Homo sapiens: one gene and its partners. Changing the gene in region 1 together with any one later gene gives a genetic interaction. Each region holds a gene or a part of one and is shown in the gene's direction. Other genes may lie near its edges.

Region 1 (3,293 bases):
CAGCTCCTGGAGCACCAGGAGCTGCACCTGAAGATGATGGCACCCCAGGAGGCAGTGCCAGCTGAGCCATCACCTAAGGCACCACCCCTGAGCTCCAGCACCATCCACTACGAGTGTGTGGATTGCAAGGCTCTCTTTGCCAGCCAGGAGCTCTGGCTGAACCACCGGCAGACGCACCTCCGGGCCACACCCACCAAGGCTCCTGCCCCTGTTGTCCTGGGGTCCCCAGTTGTTCTAGGGCCTCCTGTGGGCCAGGCCCGAGTGGCTGTGGAGCACTCATACCGAAAGGCAGAAGAGGGTGGGGAAGGGGCGACTGTCCCATCTGCCGCTGCCACCACCACTGAGGTAGTGACTGAGGTGGAGCTGCTCCTCTACAAGTGCTCTGAGTGCTCCCAGCTCTTCCAGCTGCCGGCGGATTTCCTGGAGCACCAGGCCACTCACTTCCCTGCTCCTGTACCCGAGTCTCAGGAGCCTGCCTTACAGCAGGAGGTGCAGGCCTCGTCACCTGCAGAGGTGCCTGTGTCTCAGCCTGACCCCTTGCCAGCTTCTGACCACAGTTACGAGCTGCGCAATGGTGAAGCCATTGGGCGGGATCGCCGGGGGCGCAGGGCCCGGAGGAACAACAGTGGAGAAGCAGGCGGGGCAGCCACACAGGAGCTCTTCTGCTCAGCCTGTGACCAGCTCTTTCTCTCACCCCACCAGCTACAGCAGCACCTGCGGAGTCACCGGGAGGGCGTCTTTAAGTGCCCCCTGTGCAGTCGTGTCTTCCCTAGCCCTTCCAGTCTGGACCAGCACCTTGGAGACCATAGCAGCGAGTCACACTTCCTGTGTGTAGACTGTGGCCTGGCCTTCGGCACAGAGGCCCTCCTCCTGGCCCACCGGCGAGCCCACACCCCGAATCCTCTGCATTCATGTCCATGTGGGAAGACCTTTGTCAACCTTACCAAGTTCCTTTATCACCGGCGTACTCATGGGGTAGGGGGTGTCCCTCTGCCCACAACACCAGTCCCACCAGAGGAACCTGTCATTGGTTTCCCTGAGCCAGCCCCAGCAGAGACTGGAGAGCCAGAGGCCCCTGAGCCCCCTGTGTCTGAGGAGACCTCAGCAGGGCCCGCTGCCCCAGGCACCTACCGCTGCCTCCTGTGCAGCCGTGAATTTGGAAAGGCCTTGCAGCTGACCCGGCACCAACGTTTTGTGCATCGGCTGGAGCGGCGCCATAAATGCAGCATTTGTGGCAAGATGTTCAAGAAGAAGTCTCACGTGCGTAACCACCTGCGCACACACACAGGGGAGCGGCCCTTCCCCTGCCCTGACTGCTCCAAGCCCTTCAACTCACCTGCCAACCTGGCCCGCCACCGGCTCACACACACAGGAGAGCGGCCCTACCGGTGTGGGGACTGTGGCAAGGCTTTCACGCAAAGCTCCACACTGAGGCAGCACCGCTTGGTGCATGCCCAGCACTTCCCCTACCGCTGCCAGGAATGTGGGGTGCGTTTTCACCGTCCTTACCGCCTGCTCATGCACCGCTACCATCACACAGGTGAATACCCCTACAAGTGTCGCGAGTGCCCCCGCTCCTTCTTGCTGCGTCGGCTGCTGGAGGTGCACCAGCTCGTGGTCCATGCCGGGCGCCAGCCCCACCGCTGCCCATCCTGTGGGGCTGCCTTCCCCTCCTCACTGCGGCTCCGGGAGCACCGCTGTGCAGCCGCTGCTGCCCAGGCCCCACGGCGCTTTGAGTGTGGCACCTGTGGCAAGAAAGTGGGCTCAGCTGCTCGACTGCAGGCACACGAGGCGGCCCATGCAGCTGCTGGGCCTGGAGAGGTCCTGGCTAAGGAGCCCCCTGCCCCTCGAGCCCCACGGGCCACTCGTGCACCAGTTGCCTCTCCAGCAGCCCTTGGAAGCACTGCTACAGCATCCCCTGCGGCCCCTGCCCGCCGCCGGGGTCTAGAGTGCAGCGAGTGCAAGAAGCTGTTCAGCACAGAGACGTCACTGCAGGTGCACCGGCGCATCCACACAGGTGAGCGGCCATACCCATGTCCAGACTGTGGCAAAGCGTTCCGTCAGAGTACCCACCTGAAAGACCACCGGCGCCTGCACACAGGTGAGCGGCCCTTTGCCTGTGAAGTGTGTGGCAAGGCCTTTGCCATCTCCATGCGCCTGGCAGAACATCGCCGCATCCACACAGGCGAACGACCCTACTCCTGCCCTGACTGTGGCAAGAGCTACCGCTCCTTCTCCAACCTCTGGAAGCACCGCAAGACCCATCAGCAGCAGCATCAGGCAGCTGTGCGGCAGCAGCTGGCAGAGGCGGAGGCTGCCGTTGGCCTGGCCGTCATGGAGACTGCTGTGGAGGCGCTACCCCTGGTGGAAGCCATTGAGATCTACCCTCTGGCCGAGGCTGAGGGGGTCCAGATCAGTGGCTGACTCTGCCCGACTTCCTCTTTGGCACCTCCATTCCCTGTTGCTGAAGGCCCTCCAGCATCCCCTTAAGCATCTGTACATACTGTGTCCCTTCCTCTTCCCATCCCCACCACCTTGTAAGTTCTAAATTGGATTTATTCTCTCGTGAGGGGGGTGCTCTGGGGTCCTTGACACACATAAAGGTGCCCCCCCACCTTCCACCTCTTAGCACTGGTGACCCCAAAAATGAAACCATCAATAAAGACTGAGTTGCCAGCAGTGTGTAGAGTGGAATTTGGGAGTCATGGGTCTTACCTCTCGTGGCTGCATCACCAACACCCAGAAGTGGGCCTGGCAGGTATTAGGGGTAGTAGGAGCTCAGTAAACATTTGCTGGGCTGAAGAGAATGACCTGGTGTTCATGGGCATGGCTCTCATAGCAGGGCCTTCACTTCACTGCTAGATGGAGGTAGCATGGCTCTCTTGCCACTAGAGGTCCCATGGCTCTGTGGAAAAGCTCAAGAGTGTTTGTACTGGTGGCAGGAACTTTCAGAGAAATCAGATTTTTACACTCCTGTCCCTGACTCCTGGCCTGATGTGGACCTTGTCTCCCAAGGCCATCTGATTTTCTCATTGATCCCCAAGAGCAAATGCAGGTAGGCATGATCTCTAGAGCTGTGGAATTAAAGGAGATTCTGAATAATATGTGTCTGGATGTAGGAAGATTCATGAGAGGTGGTGACTTGAATTCCCCTGGAGTTGGACTTTGGCTCAGCCAACAGATTTTTATTGTGAGTGATGGATTGTTGGGATGGCTGGCTAATGTTTGAACATCTAGTCAGTCTCAAGTACTATATAACTGAATAATATTCACACTGATTACGTGAGAACATT
Region 2 (4,105 bases), on another chromosome or scaffold:
TGCCTCAGCCTCCTGAGTAATTGGGACTACAGGTGTGTGCCACCACACCTAATTTCTATTTTGTAGAGATGGGTTTTGCTATGTAGCCCAGGCTGGTCTCAAACTCCTGGGCTCAAACTCTCCTTCCACCTTGGCCTCCCAAAGTGCTGGGATTACAGGCAAGAGCAACTGCATCCAGCCTTACTAATGTTGTTTATTTCATTGAGTAAGTAAGCTTTAGTGCATATACTATGCAAAGGTCACTGTTTAGCACTGTTAGCGAGAATACATAATCACTATAACATAAGTAAAAGTAAAGTACTGTAGGGGTTCTGACGAGAGAGATGTTATATTTGGTAGAAGATTGAAAGGGTTGACGTAAAGGTTGTAACATTTAAGCATTTAAGATGTATAATTTTGGGCCGGGCGCGGTGGCTCACGCCTGTAATCCCAGCACTTTGGGAGGCCAAGGCAGGCGGATCATGAGGTCAGGAGATTGAGACCATCCTGGCTAACATGGTGAAAACCCATCTCTACTAAAAATACAAAAAATTAGCTAGGCGTGGTGGCGGGCGCCTGTAGTCACAGCTACTTGGGAGGCTGAGGCAGGAGAATGGCGTGAACCTGGGAGGCGGAACTTGCAGTGAGCCGAGATCACGCCACTGCACTCTAGCCTGGGCGACAGAGTGAGACTGTATCAAAAAAAAAAAAATTAAATATATAATTTTTTTTTTTGTCACCTAGGCTTGAGTGCAGTGGTGCGATCTTGGCTCACTGCAACCTCCGCCTCCCGGGTTCAAGCAATTCTCCTGCCCCAGTCCCCCAAGTAGCTGGGAATACAGGCGTGTACCACCACGCCCAACTAGTTTTTGTATTTTTAGTAGAGACGGGGTTTCTCCATGTTGGCCAGGCTGGTCTTGAACTCCTGACCTTAGGCGATGTGCCCACCTCAGTATCCCAAAGTGCTGGGATTACAGGCGTGAGCTACTATGCCCGGCCAAGATGTATAGACTTTTTGACATTCGGTGCTGGGAAGACATTCCAGGTGGAGACCAGCAGGAGTGGAGGCAGAAAGCATCAGCTGTGAAGGGAAGCGGCAAAGAGAACTGAAAAGGTGGATTAAGGCTGTATAATATTTGGCCTTGATTACTACACAGAGGAGTTGTATTCATTTATTTATTTATTTATTTATTTTTGAGATGGAATCTCGCTCTGTCACCCAGGCTGGAGTGCAGTGGTGCGATCTCAGCTCACTGCAACCTCCACCTCCTGAGTTCAAGTGATTCTCCTGCCTTGGCCTCCTGTGTAGCTGAGATTACAGGTGCGCGCCACCAGGCCTAGTGTTTTTTGTATTTTTAGTAGAGACAGAGTTTCACCATGTTGGTCAGGTGGGTCTTGAACTCGTGACCTCGTGATCCGCCCGCCTTGGCCTCCCAAAGTGCTGGGATTACGGGCGTGAGCCACTGCGCCCAGCCTAGGTGTTGTATTCATTTAATAGACAACCATTGAAGTTTTTGAGCAAGGCAAAGATTATAATGAGTTACAGTCTAGAAACATCAGTGCCATGACAGTATGTGAGACTGATAGTAGAGGAAAACTAATAACCCAGGTGGTAAGAGTTTGTAAGATGTGGCAACTGATTGAATGCACACAGAGGTTACTCAGTTTTGAATCTAGGTAATCGAAGAGTACGCTGGTCCTACTAACAGAAAAGTTAAAGAGAAGAGGTTGATATGGAAAGGTTAGGTATTAATAAATGGTTTTCACTTTAGACGTGCATTTCAAGTCCCAATAAAATATCCAACTTATGATATATGAAAGCCAGTAAAAAATCCAGGATTGCAGATTTGAGAGGCCTATGCAGAGTTGAAGTCACATGAGTAAACAAACACATTGAGTGCAGAGAATAAGCCAACCTTCAAGACACGTCTACACTCAAGGAGAAAATTAGGCATAGTTGCATGCACCTGTAGTCCCAGCCACTCAGGAGGCTGAGGTGAGAGCATCGTTTGATCCTGGGAGGTCAAGGCTTCAGTGAGCAGTAGTGACCCCACTGCACTCCAGCCTGGACATCAGGACATCAGAATGAGACGCTGTCTCAGGGAAAAAAAAAAAAAAAAAGGAGAAATACAACAAAGGAAAAAGAATATCATCTCGGCCGGGCGCAGTGGTTCACACCTGTAATCCCAGCACTTTGGGAGGCCAAGGTGGGCAGATCGCAAGGTCGGGATATCGAGACCATCTGGGCTAACACGGTGAAACTCCGTCTCTATTAAAAATACAAAAAATTAGCCGAGTGTGGTGGCATGCACCTGTAGCCTCAGCTACTCGGGAGGCTGAGGCAGGAGAACTGCTTGAACCTGGGAGACGGAGGTTGCAGTGAGCCAAGATCGCGGCAGTGCACTCCAGCCTGGGCAACAGAGCGAGAGTCCGTCTCAGAAAAAAAAAAAAGAATGTCATCTCTTCAACTAGATGTAAGCTCTTGAAGAAAGGCTCAATACCCTCTGCTTTCTCTGTATCCCTTATTGTAGAGTTTAATAAATTTGTGGTTTGAATATATAGGAAATAAAGCCACAAGATTGATAAGATTTTTTTTATACAGGATGAGGATGAAGAAGTATACAAGAGAGATTTCAGCGCTCCTACCCTGGAGGATCATTTCAATAAAACCATTCTTCCTAAAGTCATGCAGGTATGGGGAACCTTAATAACATGACAGAGAAAAGTGATGTATTGATAGCTGAGGCATGGTTTGTTTGGTGGTATAACTCATCATCCATCCTTCCCTCAGGTCAAGAACTTTGGACGCTCAGGTCGCACCAAATACACTCACCTTGTGGATCAAGATACCACCTCCTTTGACTCAGCTTGGGGCCAAGAGAGTGCCCAGAACACAAAGTTCTTCAAACAAAAGGCAGCTGGGGTACGAGATGTATTTGAGCGGCCATCTGCCAAGAAGCGGAAAACTACCTAGGGTCCAACTGCTTATTCTTCCAACTGTGGAACACAAGGGGAGTCTCAGCATCTGGTCCTTGATTTGGTTTTTTCATTGTTTCCTTGGCCCCTGTATCCAGATATTGGACTTACTGCTATACTTGTGATACTGGGTAGCCCAGACTTTGAAGGTGCTTTGTGAGGTTTGGACTCATGCTGAGAAACCCACAGGAAAGCACTGTCCAGGTAGGATTAGAGGCTTCCCACTTAAAACTATTTCTGAGAAATCTTAGGTTTTATCACTGCTATGGTTTCCCATATTTACTTGGGACTGTTCTGACTTTCTTTTTCCAGCCCTTAGCTTGGGTTAGAAAAGTGGACATGTAAGTGAACAATGCATTACTTCTACCTTAGGTTTAGGAGTAATATACCCGGAAATCTAAGCTCATGGAAACATGTTTTCCATTTTTGCTTGGAGTCCGTTTTTCTAGTTGTACATACTTTTTGATCCATATATGTGTGCATGTCAAGAAATAAAAGAATCACACAACAAGGAGATTTTTAGCATGATACTGGAAATAAAATGTCCAAGCTGACAAGTATTAATTGCCTATTAAAGTAAAAGATAACAATTGTCAGGCAGAAGGTGTTTCACATTTTGATAATTCCCTTTGATCTCAGAAACAAGCTCAGGTACTAGCTTGGCTTTAGGTAGCATCTGGATTTATTCCATGACCAAATACAGATGTTTTTGAGAAGACCAAGGTCTTCTCACATCCTTTAAATGTCCCACTGGAAGAATCAAATAGTTTAGTGTCGTACGATAAAAATGAATGCAAATAATTACTATGAGGTGGTAAATACATAAAGATGAACACAGGTACAAGTCACTGTTGTGTGGGATACAATCTAAGAATTATCCTAGAGTCAGAATGAGGGTAAGGCCTTGAAACTCTTGGAGAAATGTCTGTAATTGCCATTTGAGTGTCCTTACAGCAGACTCAGGGGCCGTTGCAGGGTTTTTTTTTTGTTTGTTTGTTTGTTTTAAAGAGACGGCTCTGTTGCCCAGGCTAGAGTGCCTCAGCCTCCCGAGTAGCTGGGACTACAGGCGCCTGCCACCATGCCTGGCTAATTTTTGTATTTTTAGTAGAGACGGGGTTTCACCATGTTAGCCAGGATGGTCTTGATCTTC
Region 3 (3,906 bases), on another chromosome or scaffold:
ACAGTGTGACTTCCTCTTTACCAATTTGGATGCCCTTTATTTCTTTCTCTTGCCTGATTGCTCTGGTGAGGACTTCCAGTACTATGTTAAATAGAAGTGGTGAAAGTAGCATCCTTGTCTTGTTCCAGTTCCCAGGGGGAATGCTTTCAACCTTTCCCCATTCAGTATAGTGTTGGTCATGTGTTTGTCATAGATGCCTTTTATTATGTTGAGGTATGGCTCTATTACCTTGAGGTACGTCCCTTCTGTGCCAGTTTTGCTGAAGGTTTTAATCATGAAGGGATACTGGATTTTGTCAAATACTTTTTCTGTATCTATTGAGATGATCATGTGATTTTTGTTTTTAATTCTGTTTATGTGACGTATCACATTTATTTTTATTTTATTTAGTTATTTTTGAGACAGAGTCTTGCTCTGTCACCCAGTCTGGAGTGCGGTGGCACCATCTCAGCTCATTGCAACCTCTGCCTCCCGGGTTCAAGTGATTCTCCTGCCTCAGCCTCCTGAGTAGCTGGGACTACCTGCCACCACGTCTGGCTAATTTTTGTATTTTTAATAGAAGCGGGGTTTCACCACGTTGGCCAGGCTGGTCTTGAACTCCTGACCTCAAATGATTCACCCACCTCGGCCTCCTGAAGTGCTGGGATTACAGGCAAGAGCCACCACGCCTGGCCAACATTTATTGACTTGTGTATGGTAAACCATCTCTGCATCTCTGGTATGAAACTCACTTGATCATGGTGTATTACCTTTTTGATATGCTTTTGGATTTGGTTAGCTGGCATTTTGTTGAGGATTTTTGCATCTATGTTCATCAGGGATATTGGTCTCTAGTTTTCTTTATTGTTATATTGTTTCCTGGTTTTGGTATTAGAGTGATACTGGCTTCATAGAATGATTTAGGGAGGATTCCCTTTCTCTGTCTTTTGGAATAGTTTCAGTAAGATTGGTAGCAATTCTTCTTTGACTGGTAGAATTCAGCTGTGAATCCATCTGGTCCTGCACTTAAAATTTTTAAATTTTAATTTAATTAATTTATTTTTGTTTTCTTGGACTTTTTTCTTGGCAGTTTTTTTATGACTGTTTCAGTCTTGCTACTTGTTATTAGTCTGTTCAGAGTTTCTCTTTCTTCCTGATTTAATCTAGGAGGGTTGTATATTTCCAGGAATTTATCCATCTCCTCTAGATTTTCTAGTTTGTGCATATAAAGTATTCATAGTACTATTGAATGATCTTTTATATTTTTGTTGTATCGGTTGTAATATCTCCTGTTTTGTTTCTAGTTGAACTTACTTGAATCTTCTTCTTTTCTTGGTTAATCTTGCTAATGGTCTATCAATTGTGTTTATATTTTCAAAGAACCAGCTTTTTTTTTTTTTTTTTTTTTTTTGAGACAGAGTCTCGCTCTGTCACCCAGGCTGGAGTGCAGTGATGCCATCTTGGCTCACTGCAACCTCTGCCTCCTAGGTTCAAGTGATTCTCCTGCCTCAGCCTCCCAAGTAGCTGGGACTACAGGTGGCCCGCCACCACACCCGGCTAATTTTTTTGTATTTTTAGTAGAGATGGGATTTCACCATGTTGGTCAGGCTCAAACTCCTGACCTCAAATGATCTGCCTCCCTTGGCCTTCCAAAGTGCTGGGATTACAGACGTGAGCCACTGCACCACATCCAGAACCAGTGTTTTGTTAATCTTTTGTGGATGTTTGGTATTTTTTGTTTGTTTGTTACAGTTTAGTTCTGCTCTGATGTTTGTTACTTCTTTTCTTCTGCTGGGTTTGGGTTCAGTTTATTCTTGTTTCTCTAGTTCCTTGAAGTGTGACCTTAGATTTTCTGTTTGTGCTCCTTCAGATGTTTTGGTGTGGGTTTTTTTTTTTTTTTTTTGAGATGAGTCTCACTCTGTCACCTGGGCTGGAGTGCAGTGGTACGATCTTGGCTCACTGCAACCTCCGCCTCTTCTGTTCAAGCGATTCTGCTGCCTCAGCCTCCTGAGCAGCTAGGATTACAGGCGCCCGCCACCATGCCTGGCTAATTTTTTGTATTTTTAGTAGAGACAGGATTTCACCATGTTGGCCAGGCTGGTCTCGAACTCCTGACCTTGTGATTTGCCCGCCTTGGCCTCCCAAAGTGCTAGGATTGCAGGCATGAGCCACCACGCCTGGTGATGTAGGTATTTAATGCTATGAACTTTCCTCTTAGCACTGCTTTTGCTGTGTCTCAGAGGTTTTGATAGGTTGTGTCACTGTTATCATTCAGTTCAAAAAATTTTTAAATTTCCATCTTTATTTCATTGTTGACCCAAAGATTATTCAAGAGCAGAAATTTTAATTTCCATGTATTTGTATAGTTTTAATTTTTATTTATTTATTTTTTCTGAGATGGAGTCTTGCTCTGTCACCCAGGCTGGAATGCAATGGTACGATCTCAGCTCATTGCAACCTCTGCCTCCCAGGTTCAAACAATTCTCCTGCCTCAGCCTCCCTAGTAGCTGGGATTACAAGCCCGTGCCACCATGTATTTTTAGTACATGGCTGGCTAATTTTTGTATTTTTAGTAGAGGCATGGTTTTATCATGTTGGCCAGGCTGGTCTTGAACTCCTGACCTCAGGTGATCCACCCACCTCAGCTTCCTAAAGTGTTGGGATTACAGGCATGAGCCACCACGCCTGGTCGTGTATTTGTATAGCTTTGAGGGTTCCTTTTGGAGCTAATTTTCAGTTTTATTCCACTGTGGTATGAGAGGATACTAGATAGAATTTCAATTATCTTAAATTTATTGAGACTAAATATCTGTTAAGTCCATTTGTTCTAGGGTATATTTAACTCTATTCTTTTTTTGTTGACTTTCTCTCTTGATGACCTGTCTAGTGCTGTCAGTGGAGTATTGAAGTCCCCCACTATTGTTGTGTTGCTGTGTATTTCATTTCTTAGGTCTCTAGTAGTAATTGCTTTACAAATTTTGGAGCTCCAGGGTTAGGTGCATATATAGGATTGTGATATTTTCCTGTTGGACGAATCCTTTTTTTCATTATATAATGTCCTTCTCTGTCTTTTTGAACTGTTATTCCTTTAAAGTTTGTTTTGTCTGACATAAGAATAGCTATTCCTGCCCGCTTTTGATTTCCAGTTGTGTAGAATATCTTTTTCTACCCCTTTACCTTAAGTTTATGTGAGTCCTTATGCATTAGGTGAGTCTCTTGAAGGCAGCAGATACTTGGTTTGTGGGTTGTTATCCATTCTGCCATTCTGTGTCTTTTAAAAGGAGCATTTGGGCCATTTCTATTCAATGTTAATACAGTATTGAGATAAGGTACTGTTCTATTCATAATGCTAGTTGTTGCCTAAATACCTTTTTTTAAAAAAATTCTGTTATCGTTTTATAGGCCCTGTGAAATTTATGCTTTAAGGATGTTCTATTTTGGTGTATTTTGAGGTTTTATTTCAAGGTTTAGAACTCCTTTTAGCATTTCTTGTAGTGTGTCTTTCATTTCTTGTAGTGGCCAATTCTCTCAGCATTTGTTTATCTGAGAAAGACTATCTCTCCTTCATTTATGAAGCCTAGTTTTGCTGAATACAAAATTCTTGGCTGACAGTTATTTTGTTTCAGGAAACTAAAGATGGGACCCCAATCCCTTCTGGCTTGTAAGGTTTCTGCTGAGAAATCAGCTGTTAATCTGTTAGGTTTTCCCTTATAGGTTATCTGAGGCTATTGTGTCACAGCTCTTAAGTTTCTGTCCTTCATCTTGACTTTAGATAACCTGATAACTATGTGCCTAGGTAATGATCTTTTTGTGATGAATTTCCTAGGTGTTCTTTGAACTTCTTGTATTTGGATGTCTAGATCTCTAGCAAGGCCAGGGAACTTTTCCTCAATTATTTCCTCAAATAAGTTTTTCAAACTTTTATGT
Region 4 (4,675 bases), on another chromosome or scaffold:
GTATCCTGATCTGTAAATCTGAGGTGGAATCACACTATTTCTTCCTGTACCTTCCTTCCTCCTACTCCATCCCTTTAAGTTTTGGTGTTCCTCGGAGTTTGGTTCTTTGCTCATTGCTCTTCTCACTCTGCAAATTCTCCCTAAGTGATCTCATCCATTCCGCTAGCGTTTGTTATTACTCATGTAACAAGGAAATCCCTTTATGCTTAGCCTAGTTCTTTCTGTGGGCTATCTACCGATGTATTCATCTGCTTACAGTACATCACTGGATGTTCTACAGGCACATGAAGTTCAATATACACAGAGCTTGGCTCATCACCCTACCCACTTAACTGCCATTTCTGATTTCTCCCTTTACAATCAAGAATCAACACTGCTACCCAAGCTAGTGGCCTATGAAATCAACTTCACTTTCCCTTTTCTCTCAATCTCACATGCAATTGTTTGTCAAGTACTGCTAATTTTGTGTCCTAAGTTTCTGAAATGCATCCCTTTGTCTAGATATCTCATAAACAGCTCAAATTCAAAATATTCAAAGCTTAACTTATTACTTCTCCCTCCTGGTTCTCTTCATGTGTGTTCCAGGAGGATGTTATCACTATCTACCCAGGTGCTAGGTATCTGGGACTTGGGCATCACCCTTGTTTTCTCCTCTTGTGCCTCCCATAACCAGGTAACCACCAATTCCTGATGTTTGGCTTCCTATTCAATCTACTCACCTCTCTCCATTCTCATTGCTATTATCTTTCACTTTCTGTAGTAGTATACGGCCTTCTGTCTTCACTCTCTCTGACCTTTTCCCCACTGTGCAGCCAGATCTGATCGTGTCAGCAACTTCCCATCCCCACCCCCCATTTTTAATCCTTTGATTCCTGATGTTTAACCCCCATGACCCAGACTGCAAAATCTAGTATAGGCATCATAATCCATCCAGAGTAACATAATGTACTCGGCACATAACAGATACTCAATAGGTATTAACCTGTGCTCACCGCCTGATTATTGGTTATTTACAGCAGATAAATCCGTGAGGTGCTCTCCGTGCGCTGTACCTCTGGAGGCACAGGGTAACATACGGCTCATTGTTGTTATGAGCTGGAGGCCTTAAATGAAAGCTATAAGACGTTAACTGCGCATAATAGTACCAATGAATTCCGTAGTCAGTACAGAAAAGGATGCATATCCCAAGATATCTTCATGATGGGGCCTTAAAACAAAAGTCACCCTCATGGCTCTGCACTTTTTTTTTTTTTTTTTAGACAGGCTTTGGCTCTGTCGCCCAGGCTGGAGTGCAGTACTGGCGGGATCTCGGCTCACTGCAACCTCCACCTCCTGGGTTCAAGCGATTCTCCTGCCTCAGCCTCCCGAGTAGCTGGGATTACAGGCGCCCACCACCACGCACGGCTAATTTTTGCTGTTGTCGTATTTTTTGTAAAGATGAGGTTTCACCATGTTTTTAAAAGGACTTGGTCTTGAACTCATAACCAAAAATACATAACCTCGAACTCTTGGGCTCAAGTGATCCTCCCGCCTTGGCCTCCCAAAGTGCTGGGATTACAGGCGCGAGCCACCGAGCGCGGCCCATACGGGAAAACGTCAAAGCCTGACAGGTGTGACAAATAATGGGCCCCTAGGCAGGCTGGGGCTGGCGCGTGCCTGTGCGCGTGCGCGGGGCGCGGGGTTTTTAACACCGCGCAGCCTTCCCGGCGGCCCCCGAGGAAGGCGGGACAGGGCCTATTCCCGCGGTTTGGTCCGGCCATTGGCGGGCGGTTTGAATGACGGAAGTGACGGCGGCTCGGCGATGGCTCTCCCGCAGGCGCAGAAACGGCTGCTGGGCAGCTGATGGGCAGGAGCTTACCAGGCTGGCTTGCTCTGAGCTGCGGTTACTGTGTCCAGGCCCCGGGTTCTCAGGTGAGTCAGGGATGCACTGGCTTCCCAGTCGCCCCGTAGGAGCATGACTCCCCGAGGCCCAAGAGCTGGGATTGTATTCCGGAGGAATGGGATCCCAGGAAGGCGCCTTGTTGCGAACGCAGGTACGGCTCGCGTTTCTCAGGCTCCGCAGGCCGTGGGCCCTGCCCGCGGTCGGGCTGGCGGCTGTAAGGAGTGTCCGGACCAGACCCGGTAACTCAGTGCGAGAGGCTTTGCGCGCTCTCCTGGGGTCGGGTCGCGCGAGCTTCCCACGCAGCCTCCCCTGTCGCGGAGCTTCCGTGTCGGGGGAGGGGCGCTTCCCCCAGATCACCCGCGGACATGGCCTGCCACCTGGTAGCTGTTAAAAGAGCCTTGCCTGGATCGTTTCATGCAAAGAGCACGCTCTCTTTTGGTGTCTGCCACCTTAATCTCACAGTTATTCAATCCTGTCACAAACTCAACTTTTAAAACAATGGTGAACTTTTGAGTCCTTAATACTTAGAGTGTATTTGAAGACTTCACGCTAAGTCACATAGACGTCAGAACAAACCTTTTGGGGTAGATATTATTATTCCCTTTATACAGTTTAAGAAAACGAAACCAAAGTGACTTCAGTGACTTGGCCAGTATCTTCCTGCTAATAAGTGGCAGTGTTGGGTCTTGAACCCAGATCTTCCAAGTTTAGTGTTAATTTTGTGATTACTATGTACCAGGAGCCATTTAATCCTCAGGACGAAATCTTGCAAGATAAGTAGTATAATCTTCAATATTGGATAGTAATAAAATGTAGAATTTAAAAATCCATATTACTAAGAATAAATAATTAATAAACAAGTAAATGGGGCAGCAGGGAAAACTTCCTTACAGCAGGATTCCGATTGATAATTGTAGAAGGAATAATGGAAATAGAAAATACTATTTGGTAAACACCACAGTAGTTGTTTCAGACAACAGTCATCAATGGATACTAACGTCAATGGGCAAAAGTATGATGAAAAGCATATTTCTGTAGCCTCTACTCTGTCTTCATGAGATATTTATAAAGGAAAAGTAGTAACTACAGAGGAGAAACCTGGTGGACATCATCTTAACCAAGTGACCAAAATTCAGCATCATTTACCTCTTGATAACAATGCACTGAAAAGGTGCCTAATCAATTCTGTGGTGTTCTTGCCAAAAATACATAACCTCAGTTTAATCACATAAGATTAGACAAATCTAAATGGAGGGACATTCAACAAAGTACTTGGCCAGTATTTTCAAAAATGACAGGGTCTTGAAAAGACAGACTGAGAAACTGTCCCAGATTAAGGGGGACATGACAACTTTGACATGAGAATGTAACTCACATATCTTAATCTCCTGCATTCTGAAATCTCCATTTGCACTGAGGCCATGCTTCCCATGGGCTGCTCCTAGCCACTGACAGTGGCAGGCCTGTTCCTGAGAATCTCCCCACGGGTTCTTGCTGAACATTTCTTATACTGCATGGCTGTCTAAGAGGGGTCTACCCATTGTTACTTCCCTCCATTCAGTGTTAGACTTACACTGAAGTCTGAGGCGCTTGTAACTTTTATCAGCTCCCTCCCATTTTCCCTCACACACGCATTTCTCCTAATAAAATATTTGCAGGTTTACTCCCATCTTAGCGTCTGCTTTTTAGATGACACACAGTTACACAGCAACAAATGCAATGTGTTATATCCTTGGATTGGCTTCTGGTCCAGAAAATAGACATTAGTGTGATAATTGACAAAAATTGAATACTGCCTGTAGATTAGTAAAAAATATTGTGTCAGTGTTAATATTCAGATTTTGATCATTGTACCATGGTTATGTACAAGACGTTGACATTTGGAGAAGCTGGGGAAAGGGCAAATGGGAATTCTAAGCCTGAAATTTCCAAATAAAAAGTTTAAAAAATTTAAAAATTATACACAAGAAGAAACAGTTATTCTATCGCATTTTAGGAGCTTAAAAATAATAAATGTTTATATGTTTTTCAATAATCCTCTGAGATGAAGTAATGGATACCTAAAATTTGAAATATTAGGATTTTTTTCCTCTTAAAGTATAAGAATAAAACACAAATCTAGGTATACCATTTGAGGAATTTTTACATATGTATACACTTGTCTAAACCATCATACAGATCAAAATATATAAATTTTCAGTACCCCAGCAAGCTTCTTTGTGCCATCTCCGAGTCAGTAACTTCCAGTAAGGTAACTTTATTTTTACCTCTCATGGATTAGTTCTGCTTGTTCTTGAACTTTATATAAATCAATTTTGTTGTACTTTTTTGTGTCTGGCTTTTTAAAAATTCAGCAATATTATGTCTATGAGATTCATCAGGAATTAGTCTTAATTATTTAAATATGAGGGAATTTCTTAGACCTTCAGACAAAATAATAAAGATACATTGTGAAGATTAATCTTGTTCTTTTTTCTTCTTTGTTAAATTTTCTGTTTTTTAAATTCTCACTCTCAAAAAACAACAGCTTAAATAAAATTTTCGCCACTCCACATATTTTTGTGTGTTGGAAAGTTAGGAGCCATTTGGAATAAGGAAACCAGATTCTTCCCTTGGCTCCGCCACTAGATGTTGTCACTCAGGGAAAGTCCTTTAACCCAAGAGGCCTTGTTTCTTCATGTATAGCATGAAAAATATAATCAGTACTTTAGTTACCATTACCAAAGCCGTGTGAATATTAGATGAGTAGGATGCATTAAAAGATTTTTTTAATGCCAGCAGTTAGTCCTTTTT
Region 5 (3,906 bases), on another chromosome or scaffold:
GCATGAGCCACCGTGCCCAGCCCCAGCACACTCTTAGGTGTATTACTAGAATTTCCAAAAGGAGGGAGGGGATGGGTCAGTGCTGCTCCTTATGGGACAAAGAATACCTTCAGTATTGTTCTAAGGATAGACCCAAGCATGAAGCTACAGAGAGTGAAAAAGTCCAAGGTACTGGGGGTGTGTGTTCTGGAGACGAGAAGCCACCAGGGAGAGGAGCGCTGCCTTCCTGTCTCATCTGAAGGAACATCATGCAGAAGAGGGCAGACAAGGGCAGCCTGTGCCTAAGCTCATTTCCAAGAAGGTTTGGGGCTCCCAGCCATTCATTGTAGGTAGTAGAGGGAGCAGAGGCTTGAAAATAATGGCCAGCACTCACCCCTCTTCTCATCTCTTCAATCCGCTGAGTTCATTTCACATCAGCCTGGCCCAGCCTCCCCTGGCCTGTCTGTTTTGTCGAGCTGTCTGTGTGTGTTTCTTTCGGAGACTTCTTCCTTGCAGATAAGAGAGGGCTGAACAAATGCCCCGGCCCTGCCAAGAGCCGGTCAGGAGGTTTATTGTTTGCTGTGCCTGGAACCGTGGGTCTGCGGTGGGACTGCCTGCCTGGTAACTGGTGCCGGATCTGAGGAGGAGAATTCTGGTCATGCTTCGTGCAGGCGTTGGTGAAGCTGCGGTTTTTAAAACCAGGCTTTAAAACCATGTAGGTGCTTTACTGACCGGTCGCGGTGGCTCATTTCTGTAATCCCAGCACTTTGGAAGCCAAGGCGGGTGGATCACTTGATGTCAGGAGTTCGAGACCAGCCTGGCCAACATGGTGAAACTCTGTCTGCACTAAAAATACAAAAATTAGCCGGATGTAGTGGTGGGCATCTATCACTTGAACCCAGGAGGTGGAGGTTGCAGTGAGCCGAGATCGCGCCAGTGCACTCCGGCCTAGATGATAGAGTAAGACTCTGTCTCAAAAAATAATAATAATAAATAAAACCACGTAGGTGCTTTCAGTTCAGCCTAAGGCACTGGCCTACAGGATTTATGAGATTCCCAAAGACACTCATTCTCACAGAGCTCTTAGAAGGTTCCAGAGGGACACAGTTCTCTTCTGTTGGCAGCAGGGAGCAAGCAAGTACTTTTCTTACTGGAGCTACTGGTATGTGGAGCATTGTGTGTAAGCGTCCCTTCCCAGGGTGTCACTTTAGACAGCGAAGGAAACTGTCTTCTCTCTGCAGCCTGGAGAAGCAAGCTGCATGGAGCCAGGAGGAGGAGGAGAGAGGCCTTTCAGTGTATCCTGTGCAAACTTGCAGTCCGGGCAGGACTTTCCTTCTGGCTGGCTCTTCTCTGGCCCTGAGGCCGGGTGCAATTTCTGGTCTCCTTGCTAAACAAACCAGCAGTCACTTGCTCCCGCGTGTCCCTTCTGCCAGGCTCTCAGCTCGGGTCTGTTTCTCTTTCCCTTGAGGCAGCAGAATAGAAAGTCCCATGAACTTGCCCCTTGAGCCCTGACCTGAGATATTAGGTCAGGTTTCCACTTGCTGAAATCCAGAGCGTGGCTTTTAACCGTCTGAGCTTATTGTGAAGATGGCCGGCTGGTTTTCAAAGCCTTCTTTGAAGGCCTTTCTAGCCGATGTTGAAAAAGTAGGCCAATGAAATGGCCCGCAAGCAATAAATCCACAGGCCCAGCGGCATCCCTCGTCACGTTTCATCCCCATGCCTGTGACCCCAGGGACTTTCCACCTCTCCGAGGAAGCACTGAGCCATTTGCTTTGCCTTTCCAGAAAGCCATTGATCTGGTGACGAAAGCCACAGAGGAGGACAAAGCCAAGAACTACGAGGAGGCGCTGCGGCTGTACCAGCATGCGGTGGAGTACTTCCTCCACGCTATCAAGTGTGAGTCACACGAGGGGTCCTCAGGCTGCCGCACTCCAGAGGGGAGCGGAGGAGAGGGGGTGGCGCACGAGCCTCACAGGGGCCCCTCTGTGTTCCCTTTCACAGATGAGGCCCACAGCGACAAGGCCAAGGAGAGCATTCGAGCCAAGTGCGTGCAGTACCTAGACCGGGCCGAGAAGCTGAAGGATTATTTACGAAGCAAAGAGAAACACGGCAAGAAGCCAGTCAAAGAGAACCAGAGTGAGGGCAAGGGGTGAGTGTCTGCAGCGTCCGCCCAGGAACCTGGGCCCTCCTCACGGCTCCCTATCATTCCTGGCGCTCATGCTGCCTTGGACTTCCCTGTGGGAATGGTCCTCATAGTGCAGGGATGACAGTGCCAGCAGCTGCTTTCAGGGAGCATGGCCTGGAGCACTTCCATGTTCACCGTCTCATTGGATCTGACCCACAAGCCATGGGGAGAGGGGGAGCTTGGTGCAGATGGTAGAGCCTCTCAGGACGGGACCCCAGCTCTGTCACCTCCCAGCCTAGTGCCAGGACCCCGTGTGCCTACCATCTCCACATCTTGGAAGTGGGGAGGTCGTGGAACTCACCTCCGAGCGTTGCCACAGGGAGCAGTGAGATGACGTGGGCAGTGCCCTTGGAGCTTGGCACACGAGAGCATGCAATGAGTGCCAGCTGCTGTGACTGTCAAAGAGTCACCTGCCTCCAACAGGTGGGGCGGCCGGCTCGGGTTAGGAGCCCTGCCGAGGTGGCACAGGATGGAACTTGGACCCCCAAAGCAGGGCGGGTGGCCCCGATTCCCCAGCCAGGGTCCTCTCCACAGCCTCTCACCTCAGGTACTGGGTTCGCCCACCACGGTGATCCCAGTCATATGAACACAAATGCTGGTGGTATCTCGGAGGCGTGGGAGGGGAAGTGAGGGGGTCCCCCAGGCAGGAGAGGGGTGGGTGGTGTCAGCTGCCTCACCAGAGGCGAGGCCTCCTCCTGGATGGAGGGTCTGCACCACGTTCCCATCCGCAGAGGGAGAGGTCTGGCGAGGCAGGGGTGGAGGCCAGGGATCTCCAATAAGGATTAAATCAAGTTTTGAGGATGACAGATTCCATCCAGGGAGGAAGTAGCCCTGGGGTGACAGTGGCTGCGTTCTCCCCAGGAGTTCCCTTTCGATTTCGGTTTTGCTTTCTCCTCTGTCCTTCGGCAGTGGCTGCTTTGGAGTCAGGGGCACATGCTGTCCCTGAGTCTCTACAAAAAGCTTCTGGTGCGGGGCATGGTGGCTCACACCTGTAATCCCAGCACTTTGGGAGGCCAACGCGGGCAGATCACTTGAGGTCAGGATTTCAAAACCAGCCTGGCCAACATGGTGAATCCCGTCTCTATTAAAAATACAAAAAAATAGGCCGGGCGCGGTGGCTCACGCCTGTAATCCCAGCACTTTGGGAAGCCGAGGCGGGCGGATCACGAGGTCAGGAGATTGAGACCATCCTGGCTAACACGGTGAAACCCCGTCTCCACTAAAAATACAAAATATTAGCCGGGCGTGGTGGCGGGCACCTGTAGTCCCAGCTACTCAGGAGGCTGAGGCAGGAGAATGGCGTGAACCCGGGAGGCGGAGCTTGCAGTGAGCCGAGATCGAGCCACTACACTCCAGCCTGGGCGACTGAGTGCGACTCTGTCTTAAAAAAAAAATTAGCCAGGCATTGTGGCATGTGCCTGTAATCCCAGCTACTCGGGAGGCTGACGCCAGAGAATTCAGAGAATTACTTGAACCCGGGAGGCGGAGATTGCAGTGAGCTGAGATGGAGATTGTGCCATCGCACTCCAACCTGGGCACCATCTCAAAAAAAAAAAAAAAAAAAAAAGAAGCTTCTGGCAGCTGCATTGTTTGACTGGCTTTTTTTTTTTTTTTTCCCCCAGACAGGGCTTCACTGTCTCCCAGGCTGGAGTGCAGTGGTGCGATCTTGGTTAACTGCAACCTCTGCCTCCCAAGTAGCTGGCACCATAGGTGCGTGCCACCATGCTTGGCTAATTTTGTGT
Region 6 (3,906 bases), on another chromosome or scaffold:
TTAGAAAAATAGCAGGCTTTAGTAGAGTGGTTTTTTCCAGTGAGTACTTTTCAGTCAACAGGTTTATTGGGAGGTGGCTAAAATGCACATGGAGGTGAGCCCTTCCCTGCCAGACAAGCAAAGAATCAAGCTGTATATTTAAAACTTGGCTGTTAACCCAAAGGATTTCTACAGGAAGTTTTTTTCTCCTTTGATGTTTGTAGAGGGGTTTTTTTTCCCCTCCCGACAAAATCAATACACAGAAAACCCAAAGCTCTTAATTTGCAAAACTGAATGGATTTGTGAAAATAGATACCTTTTTGGCAGAAATGCAATTTGGCATTAATCCCTTGATCTAAAACTTAGAAGAAACCAGGCTGAATTCAAATTTATTGATGGATCAATTTAAAGAGTTTTAATCTGGGTGTTATGAGTTCCTTGGGCCTATTGTTTGCCTGAACCCTGTGGGGACTGGCTCATCAGCAGAATTATTCATGGAGGAATTTGCTAGGTTTTACCTTGGCTCTCTAGCTTGGGACATTTTGTTTCTTCCTTAAATCCTTATTGCAACCGTCCAGCTACCAGGTAGGTATATTGCCTTGTAAGTGCTGGTACAGTTTGCCTTATTTATATTCCACTGCTTCTCAGGGATTAACATCTGCTCGTGCAGCTGAGATCCTGGCGCGAGATGGTCCCAACGCCCTCACTCCCCCTCCCACTACTCCTGAATGGATCAAGTTTTGTCGGCAGCTCTTTGGGGGGTTCTCAATGTTACTGTGGATTGGAGCGATTCTTTGTTTCTTGGCTTATAGCATCCAAGCTGCTACAGAAGAGGAACCTCAAAACGATAATGTGAGTTCTGTAATTCAGCATATGGATTTGTAGTACACATCAGATATCTTCTCCGTCTTTGTCTCCCACTTCTTCTCAATTACCACTCATTACTTAATGGTTATGAACTCATTACTTAATGGTTATGAACAGCTGTTGCCTTCAAGGCTCATCCATTCTTCCTTCGTTTCCATTTCCTCTCTCTACCACCCACGTTGTAGATGCTCTTACAAGTGGGATGCCCACCTGCATGTGCTGCTGTGAGCAGGCAGCTCTGCTCAGGCCCCGGCCGCCACCCACTGGATGGCAGAGCACAGCGATTCATGTTGGCACATCCACCTGTCCAGAAATGCTTGGTGGCCATTCTTCAAAATCCACAAGTTGGTTGAAAAACAATCTTTGTTTTATAAAGCAGGAGAAACTGATGCATCTAGAACCTTTCCAAACGTCCAGTTAGTGATCAAGTGTTGGTGTGCCTGACTCCATTTCTGACCCTTCCTGTGTGGTCTTTAGAAGGATAAATAAGAAAACATGAGTTCTATATTTCTGAAATCTTGGTTTCTCTATTAAAAATCTGTTTTTTATTCAGTCAAAAAATTAATTGAATGTCCCTAATTATTGTGTAGAGCCACGGGCCCTAACTTGTCTTTTCCCTTCCAGCTGTACCTGGGTGTGGTGCTATCAGCCGTTGTAATCATAACTGGTTGCTTCTCCTACTATCAAGAAGCTAAAAGTTCAAAGATCATGGAATCCTTCAAAAACATGGTCCCTCAGGTACCAGACGCTTTGTCCTTCCCCAGTGGATGACTTGACAGCCCCAAGCATGTCAGCCTGTGAATTAGTGTGAAGTTAAGGTTTTCCAAGTATTACATGACTCATCAGAGAGATGGATGTCTTCTACCCCACCCAAAACCAACCTATTTTCCTTCTATCCAAAAAGTGGTAGCCTTTCTTTTGAATGTAAACTCTGAATACAGGCACACCATGTAACAGCAATATCTCTTAAACTGGCGAGCAAGCTTTTGTAACTTGTGTAAATAAAAAAGTGAATAATATCTTTGTTTTGTATTCAGGTAATTAGGATTATGACTATTTTTATTTTCTTGTTTTGGACACTACCTTCTCTTTGTTGGTATACTAACGGTGTAAATTGTTTCTTTTCCAAAGCAAGCCCTTGTGATTCGAAATGGTGAGAAAATGAGCATAAATGCGGAGGAAGTTGTGGTTGGGGATCTGGTGGAAGTAAAAGGAGGAGACCGAATTCCTGCTGACCTCAGAATCATATCTGCAAATGGCTGCAAGGTAGCTCTTTTATTTTAACAAACCTCATAGCTAGCTCTGCTGTTCGGGCAGCTTGATTTGAGGGGTACAGTAGCCCATGATAAGGCTGGTGTATTCACATGACATTTTTCTTCTTTTCCTCACATATAGGTGGATAACTCCTCGCTCACTGGTGAATCAGAACCCCAGACTAGGTCTCCAGATTTCACAAATGAAAACCCCCTGGAGACGAGGAACATTGCCTTCTTTTCAACCAATTGTGTTGAAGGTAGGCCATTTTTGGGCACTTTGAGCATGGCGTGGTATTTCTCTTGGGCATTAACAAAATCAAAACCATAGGCACAATCTCTTGTTTTATTGGCTCCATTTCTGAGAACTTGTGTCAAGCACAGAGCAGAGGTGTTTTCCTAGCTGGCAGGAAACCTTGTGGCAGTTTCCCTTCCCTCCACCTCCACCCTGCCTCTTCTGTCAACAACACCAGTCTGGCATGGGTGTTGGAGCTGCTGTCCTGCTACTGGAGAGAAGTCCCTTTGCCAAACAGCATGTACAGCCAAAGAGCTGGCCCTTAAAAAGTGCTTTTATCAACTCTTTTTGTTTTTTTAGTCATCCTATGTAATTGTGTAAAATCCGTGGCTTCCTTCAGGTTAGATACAATTAGGTACAGTTCTCCCTCCCCTTCTTTTTAAGGCACCGCACGTGGTATTGTTGTCTACACTGGGGATCGCACTGTGATGGGAAGAATTGCCACACTTGCTTCTGGGCTGGAAGGAGGCCAGACCCCCATTGCTGCAGAAATTGAACATTTTATCCACATCATCACGGGTGTGGCTGTGTTCCTGGGTGTGTCTTTCTTCATCCTTTCTCTCATCCTTGAGTACACCTGGCTTGAGGCTGTCATCTTCCTCATCGGTATCATCGTAGCCAATGTGCCGGAAGGTTTGCTGGCCACTGTCACGGTAAGAGGCAGGTGATGGTCACCCTGACTCAGATCAGCTTGCACGAATGTTACACTCTTCCGCTATCCTATTCTAAGGTATTGCCAACTTATGTTTTATTCTGGATGTTTGATATAGTTCTTCTTGAGAGCCACATCACGTGGTGAATTTTGACAGTGAGAAAACCTCAGCATTTGTTTATACGTAAGATAACCCCAAAGCATACATTTTGCTTTTAAATTATCACGTGGTCCTGAACAGTGCAGTGGAGAAAGGAGAAGAACTTGGGATCAAGTAGGGGGATAGAATATGGTAGAATCCTGTTATTATTTTTCTTAATAGATTGCTTTTCTGGAAGGAAGGGGAAGCCTCATGTATGGGTTCCCCTTATTATTTCTTCAAACTTCAGAAGAAGGTTGGAGAGATTTAATTTTAGACAAATTTCTTCCACATTAGGATATAGCAAGAATCTGTATAGAATTCCAGCCTGGTTGAGTGAAGTAATAATCTTCCTAATATTTTTTAGGTCTGTCTGACACTTACTGCCAAACGCATGGCAAGGAAAAACTGCTTAGTGAAGAACTTAGAAGCTGTGGAGACCTTGGGGTCCACGTCCACCATCTGCTCTGATAAAACTGGAACTCTGACTCAGAACCGGATGACAGTGGCCCACATGTGGTTTGACAATCAAATCCATGAAGCTGATACGACAGAGAATCAGAGTGGTAAGGCCAGGGTTACCACACACCTCAGCCACCTGCTGACTTCGCTTGGTTTTTTTTCTTTTAAGAAATTGCATGAAATTTCTTTTTTTTTTTTAAGCTCATGGCAGCTTTTTCTTTCTTTTTTGTTTTTTTTTTTTTTATCATTTAGTGAAGAG
Region 7 (3,906 bases), on another chromosome or scaffold:
ACTCTGTCCCTGATGTTTTCTAGGGAAGTGTCTTTTCTAGGAACTCTGCCACCCCCTCATCCTATCCTCCAGCCGGATGTTTCTTCTGAGTTCAGACATTTTTCTTTTCCATCTTTCTTTCCCCAGGAATAACAAACGAGGACAGCAAGGCTGGGACAGGAAGTACATTGTCCTGGAGGGATCAAAAGTCCTCATTTATGACAATGAAGCCAGAGAAGGTAAATTAATAATTCAGGGGGAAGGTCATTGCACGTGGCTAACCCAGGTCTCCCCAGTGCTGGCGCGAAGGCTTTGTTTTTTGGACTGCCTTGCAAGCCTTCTACGCTTTTCCATTTTTGAAACTTACAAACCAAATGACTTCTCTAAAGGTTATTGGTGCGATACTCACATCTATAGGTCTCCCCCCTGAAGAACCCGCAGGGCGCTGCCCTGAAGATTCCACCTGCTAATACACCTTCCGAGAACTTCTGCCTCAGTCAACTAACCCATAAATCCGCATCGTCATCAGAAATTTGACTGTGCTACTCATCTGACACACTTTATTTTTTTTTATCTTCCCTCTCTGCCTTCTCTGCACACCTCTGTCCCTTCCTTGTTCTCGTGCGCCTCTCTTTACACACGTACCCTGTCTCTCTCTCCCTTGCTGTCTCTCTCGCTCTCTCTTCTCCCCTTGTTCTTGTTCCTGTTCTTTTGTTTTTCTTTCTGCCCTTCCTCTTTGCACCAAGCTGGACAGAGGCCGGTGGAAGAATTTGAGCTGTGCCTTCCCGACGGGGATGTATCTATTCATGGTGCCGTTGGTGCTTCCGAACTCGCAAATACAGCCAAAGCAGGTGAGGAGGAGCCGGAGGAGCCCCGCCCTGGAGGTGGGCCGGGCTTGGCCAATCAGCAGGGACAGAAGGGGTGGTACAGGGAAGATTGGCTCTGCAAAGGAGGCCCATCTTCCTCCGCTCCCCGCCTTGGCGGTAACTGGGATTTGCGTGGTTTGGTGGGCATCTTTGATCTCTCAGGCCCGTCCCTCCCAGTGGGAACGGGGGAAATCCACACCCAATCCTGTGCTCTCTGAAATCTCCTAGATGTCCCATACATACTGAAGATGGAATCTCACCCGCACACCACCTGCTGGCCCGGGAGAACCCTCTACTTGCTAGCTCCCAGCTTCCCTGACAAACAGCGCTGGGTCACCGCCTTAGAATCAGTTGTCGCAGGTGGGAGAGTTTCTAGGGAAAAAGCAGAAGCTGATGCTGTGAGTATGAAAGCGGGCCCTGGAGGTTGTCTTTGTAAAGGGGGCTGACTTGGTAACTGGTGTTAACGACGAGAATCCCATTGGCCATTTTGATTCCCCTCAGGCTCTCTCTCTGAGGGCTGATGGCTCTAGACTGTGTCATGGCCAGGAGTCTGGTGGTGATGAAGGCACAAGCACCAAGGTAGCTTGTGTGGCATCATGATCCATTTAGAATGTGGGAATCAGGGATGCGGTGGCTCATGCCTGTGGTCCCAGTGACCCAGGAGGCCAAGGCAGGAGGATCACTTGAGCCCAGGAGTTTGAAACCAGACTGGGCAAGATAGCAAGATCCCATCTCTTAAAAAAAGAGAAAGAAAGAAAGTTAGCCAGGTGTGGTGACATGCACCTGTAGTTCCAGCTAGTAGGGAGGCTGAGGCCGGCGGATTGCCCAGGAGTTTGAGGCTGCAGTGAGCTACGATTGTGCCACTGTACTCCAGCCTGGGCAACAGAGCGAGGCATGGACTGTAAAAGCAAAGGAAAAAGAATGGGGGAATCGGCATCAGTAGCCTACTCTGGTGGCATTGTAGACCTTGGTTGTGGTGATGCAGCAGCAAATGTACTTATAAGGAAATCCTCTCTCCTGTTTACTCAAATGAGTTTGTCTGGTTTGAAGGCTTGAGTTAGAAGCACTTTGGCCACGAAGCAGCACAATAGGCTGCCGGCAGCTGTGTCCCCTCCAGGAAGGCTTTTCATAAGCATCTCAGTTGTTTTTGCAGTATTTGCTCTTCCGTAGGCAGGTTTGGAGTCCTACTTATCCTTAAGCTGTTAGAAACGTAGGTGTGCTGTGATTGGCATCACCCCACCTAAAATGTTCCAGGATACAAACAGTGCTCATTGCTCATTGACGTTTGCTCCAGCGAAGACCAAACAGCTCTTTTCAGACTCTTCACTCCTAATAAACACTTTATGTGTTAGCAATTGGCAGATTCTTAACCACAAGCCTCCTGAAAAGGGCTTTACTCAGTGGTTAGACCTGTTTGGATGACTTGTTGGTCGTTTCACACGTGAGCTTTTACTGAAATCCTTGTTAATATGTGTACAATAGGCCCGCGACTGTGTTTCTTACGAGCTTCTGCCTGCCTGGGTTCAGGTAAAGAGATGCAGAGGCGTGCTGGCTCGCTGCTAACACGGCGCCTTTGCACTTCTGCTGCAGCCTTATGGGGGAAGGAGTCTTTCATGTGTCTTATTAACCCTGCGCAGGTGAAATCTCCTTAGCTTCAGCTTATTTCTTATTACAGAATAGCTTTCCATGTCTACTACCCTCCCTTATTTCTGCATCCCAGCCAAATTATAACTCAGATGCTAATTAACAGCTGCCCCAGAGATACCAATAGCACTCGCATTTTGCATTTGGAGCTCAGATCAAAATACGGGCTGAGCTAAGAGCATATGTGCGTTTCTGAGCATTTCCAGGAATAACTTGGCCTTAACCTTCTCTTGGTTTCTCTGGATGGTTTGGTCATAAACAGATCAGCCTCACGATGTCTTCTGTTTTTCTTTTCTTTCACCTATGAAAAGAAACTGCTTGGAAACTCCCTGCTGAAACTGGAAGGTGATGACCGTCTAGACATGAACTGCACGCTGCCCTTCAGTGACCAGGTAATGCTTGCATGGGCACGGCCAGCTGGTGTCTGGTTACAGCCACACCCCATCAAGAAAGAAAGGGCTGTGGAGGCCTTGTTGCTCTTACTAGAGATTGTTCTGGTGACGTGACCGTGCTTATGTTCTGCCTTCGGACTTCTGCCCTTGCAGGTGGTGTTGGTGGGCACCGAGGAAGGGCTCTACGCCCTGAATGTCTTGAAAAACTCCCTAACCCATGTCCCAGGAATTGGAGCAGTCTTCCAAATTTATATTATCAAGGACCTGGAGAAGCTACTCATGATAGCAGGTGTGAGGCCAAGGACATGGTGTTTTTTCTTTACTTTCAAGGGAGCCAATATGTTGAAGCCACGTTTCATGCTCGTAAAACACAAAATAGTAGAGAGGAGCCGTTGTAGCTCTTATCTCTGTGTCCCCATAGATGCCCAAGCCTCAGCTAATGGACCCCCTCTGTCCAGATTCAGTTCCCTTCCAGTATCCAGTTTAGCACAGTCTGACATTCCCAAAGAACATCCCACTGTTAGGCCAAGTGAAGAGTGCTAAGCCTCGAAGACTATCTAAAGCCAAACCCTTTGTCCTGATTGCAACGAAACCACCGTGGGCCCTGACCTTCTGAGAGCTTGCTTGCTCTGTTAACTCTGTGATCTCTCTCAAGTCACCATTTGCTAATATTTTGTCATAATTTTTTTCTCTGTCTTCTTAACACACACACACACACACACACACACACACACACACACACACACACACACTCTCTCTCTCTCTCTCTCTCTCTCTTTCCTGAACCATTTGAGAGTTAGTTGCAGGTATGACGCCAAGTTCTTCAGTATATCAACCTAAGGATTGAAGACATTCTGTCACATAACCAGGGTACAGTTTATTTCTCTCTGTCTGTGTTAGTGACATTATTTTTAAAGGGGAAAAGAGTAATATATCGATTCAGTGTTCAAAACAACAACAGTTAGGTCTTGTTTCAGGCATGGCTGGATCCGGGGACTGACATACTATGGACAAGAACTGGCCTT

The links.
Region 2: changes in ZNF574 (region 1) and MFAP1 together harm fitness more than expected from each alone (negative genetic interaction), as found in Homo sapiens cells (one large-scale study listed by BioGRID).
Region 3: changes in ZNF574 (region 1) and RNGTT together harm fitness more than expected from each alone (negative genetic interaction), as found in Homo sapiens cells (one large-scale study listed by BioGRID).
Region 4: changes in ZNF574 (region 1) and CEP295 together harm fitness more than expected from each alone (negative genetic interaction), as found in Homo sapiens cells (one large-scale study listed by BioGRID).
Region 5: changes in ZNF574 (region 1) and VPS4A together harm fitness more than expected from each alone (negative genetic interaction), as found in Homo sapiens cells (one large-scale study listed by BioGRID).
Region 6: changes in ZNF574 (region 1) and ATP1A1 together harm fitness more than expected from each alone (negative genetic interaction), as found in Homo sapiens cells (one large-scale study listed by BioGRID).
Region 7: changes in ZNF574 (region 1) and CIT together harm fitness more than expected from each alone (negative genetic interaction), as found in Homo sapiens cells (one large-scale study listed by BioGRID).

The regions. Positions count from the first base shown.
Region 1 is NC_000019.10:42,078,874-42,082,166, forward strand, and holds the end of ZNF574 (zinc finger protein 574), read left to right. Parts: coding exon 1-2,424; 3' UTR 2,425-2,679; downstream 2,680-3,293. UniProt on the Homo sapiens protein: May be involved in transcriptional regulation.
Region 2 is NC_000015.10:43,803,942-43,808,046, reverse strand, and holds the end of MFAP1 (microfibrillar-associated protein 1), read left to right. Parts: intron 1-2,581; coding exon 2,582-2,671; intron 2,672-2,770; coding exon 2,771-2,953; 3' UTR 2,954-3,555; downstream 3,556-4,105. UniProt on the Homo sapiens protein: Involved in pre-mRNA splicing as a component of the spliceosome.
Region 3 is NC_000006.12:88,953,525-88,957,430, reverse strand, and holds part of RNGTT (mRNA-capping enzyme), read left to right. Parts: intron 1-3,906.
Region 4 is NC_000011.10:93,659,864-93,664,538, forward strand, and holds the start of CEP295 (centrosomal protein of 295 kDa), read left to right. Parts: upstream 1-1,818; 5' UTR 1,819-1,911; intron 1,912-4,675. UniProt on the Homo sapiens protein: Centriole-enriched microtubule-binding protein involved in centriole biogenesis.
Region 5 is NC_000016.10:69,314,245-69,318,150, forward strand, and holds part of VPS4A (vacuolar protein sorting-associated protein 4A), read left to right. Parts: intron 1-1,763; coding exon 1,764-1,875; intron 1,876-1,980; coding exon 1,981-2,128; intron 2,129-3,906. UniProt on the Homo sapiens protein: Involved in late steps of the endosomal multivesicular bodies (MVB) pathway. Recognizes membrane-associated ESCRT-III assemblies and catalyzes their disassembly, possibly in combination with membrane fission.
Region 6 is NC_000001.11:116,386,661-116,390,566, forward strand, and holds part of ATP1A1 (sodium/potassium-transporting ATPase subunit alpha-1), read left to right. Parts: intron 1-627; coding exon 628-831; intron 832-1,470; coding exon 1,471-1,584; intron 1,585-1,977; coding exon 1,978-2,112; intron 2,113-2,241; coding exon 2,242-2,359; intron 2,360-2,778; coding exon 2,779-3,047; intron 3,048-3,552; coding exon 3,553-3,751; intron 3,752-3,906. UniProt on the Homo sapiens protein: This is the catalytic component of the active enzyme, which catalyzes the hydrolysis of ATP coupled with the exchange of sodium and potassium ions across the plasma membrane.
Region 7 is NC_000012.12:119,709,515-119,713,420, reverse strand, and holds part of CIT (citron Rho-interacting kinase), read left to right. Parts: intron 1-126; coding exon 127-218; intron 219-725; coding exon 726-830; intron 831-1,073; coding exon 1,074-1,243; intron 1,244-2,327; coding exon of another isoform or gene 2,328-2,372; intron 2,373-2,800; coding exon 2,801-2,881; intron 2,882-3,034; coding exon 3,035-3,170; intron 3,171-3,906. UniProt on the Homo sapiens protein: Plays a role in cytokinesis. Required for KIF14 localization to the central spindle and midbody. Putative RHO/RAC effector that binds to the GTP-bound forms of RHO and RAC1. It probably binds p21 with a tighter specificity in vivo.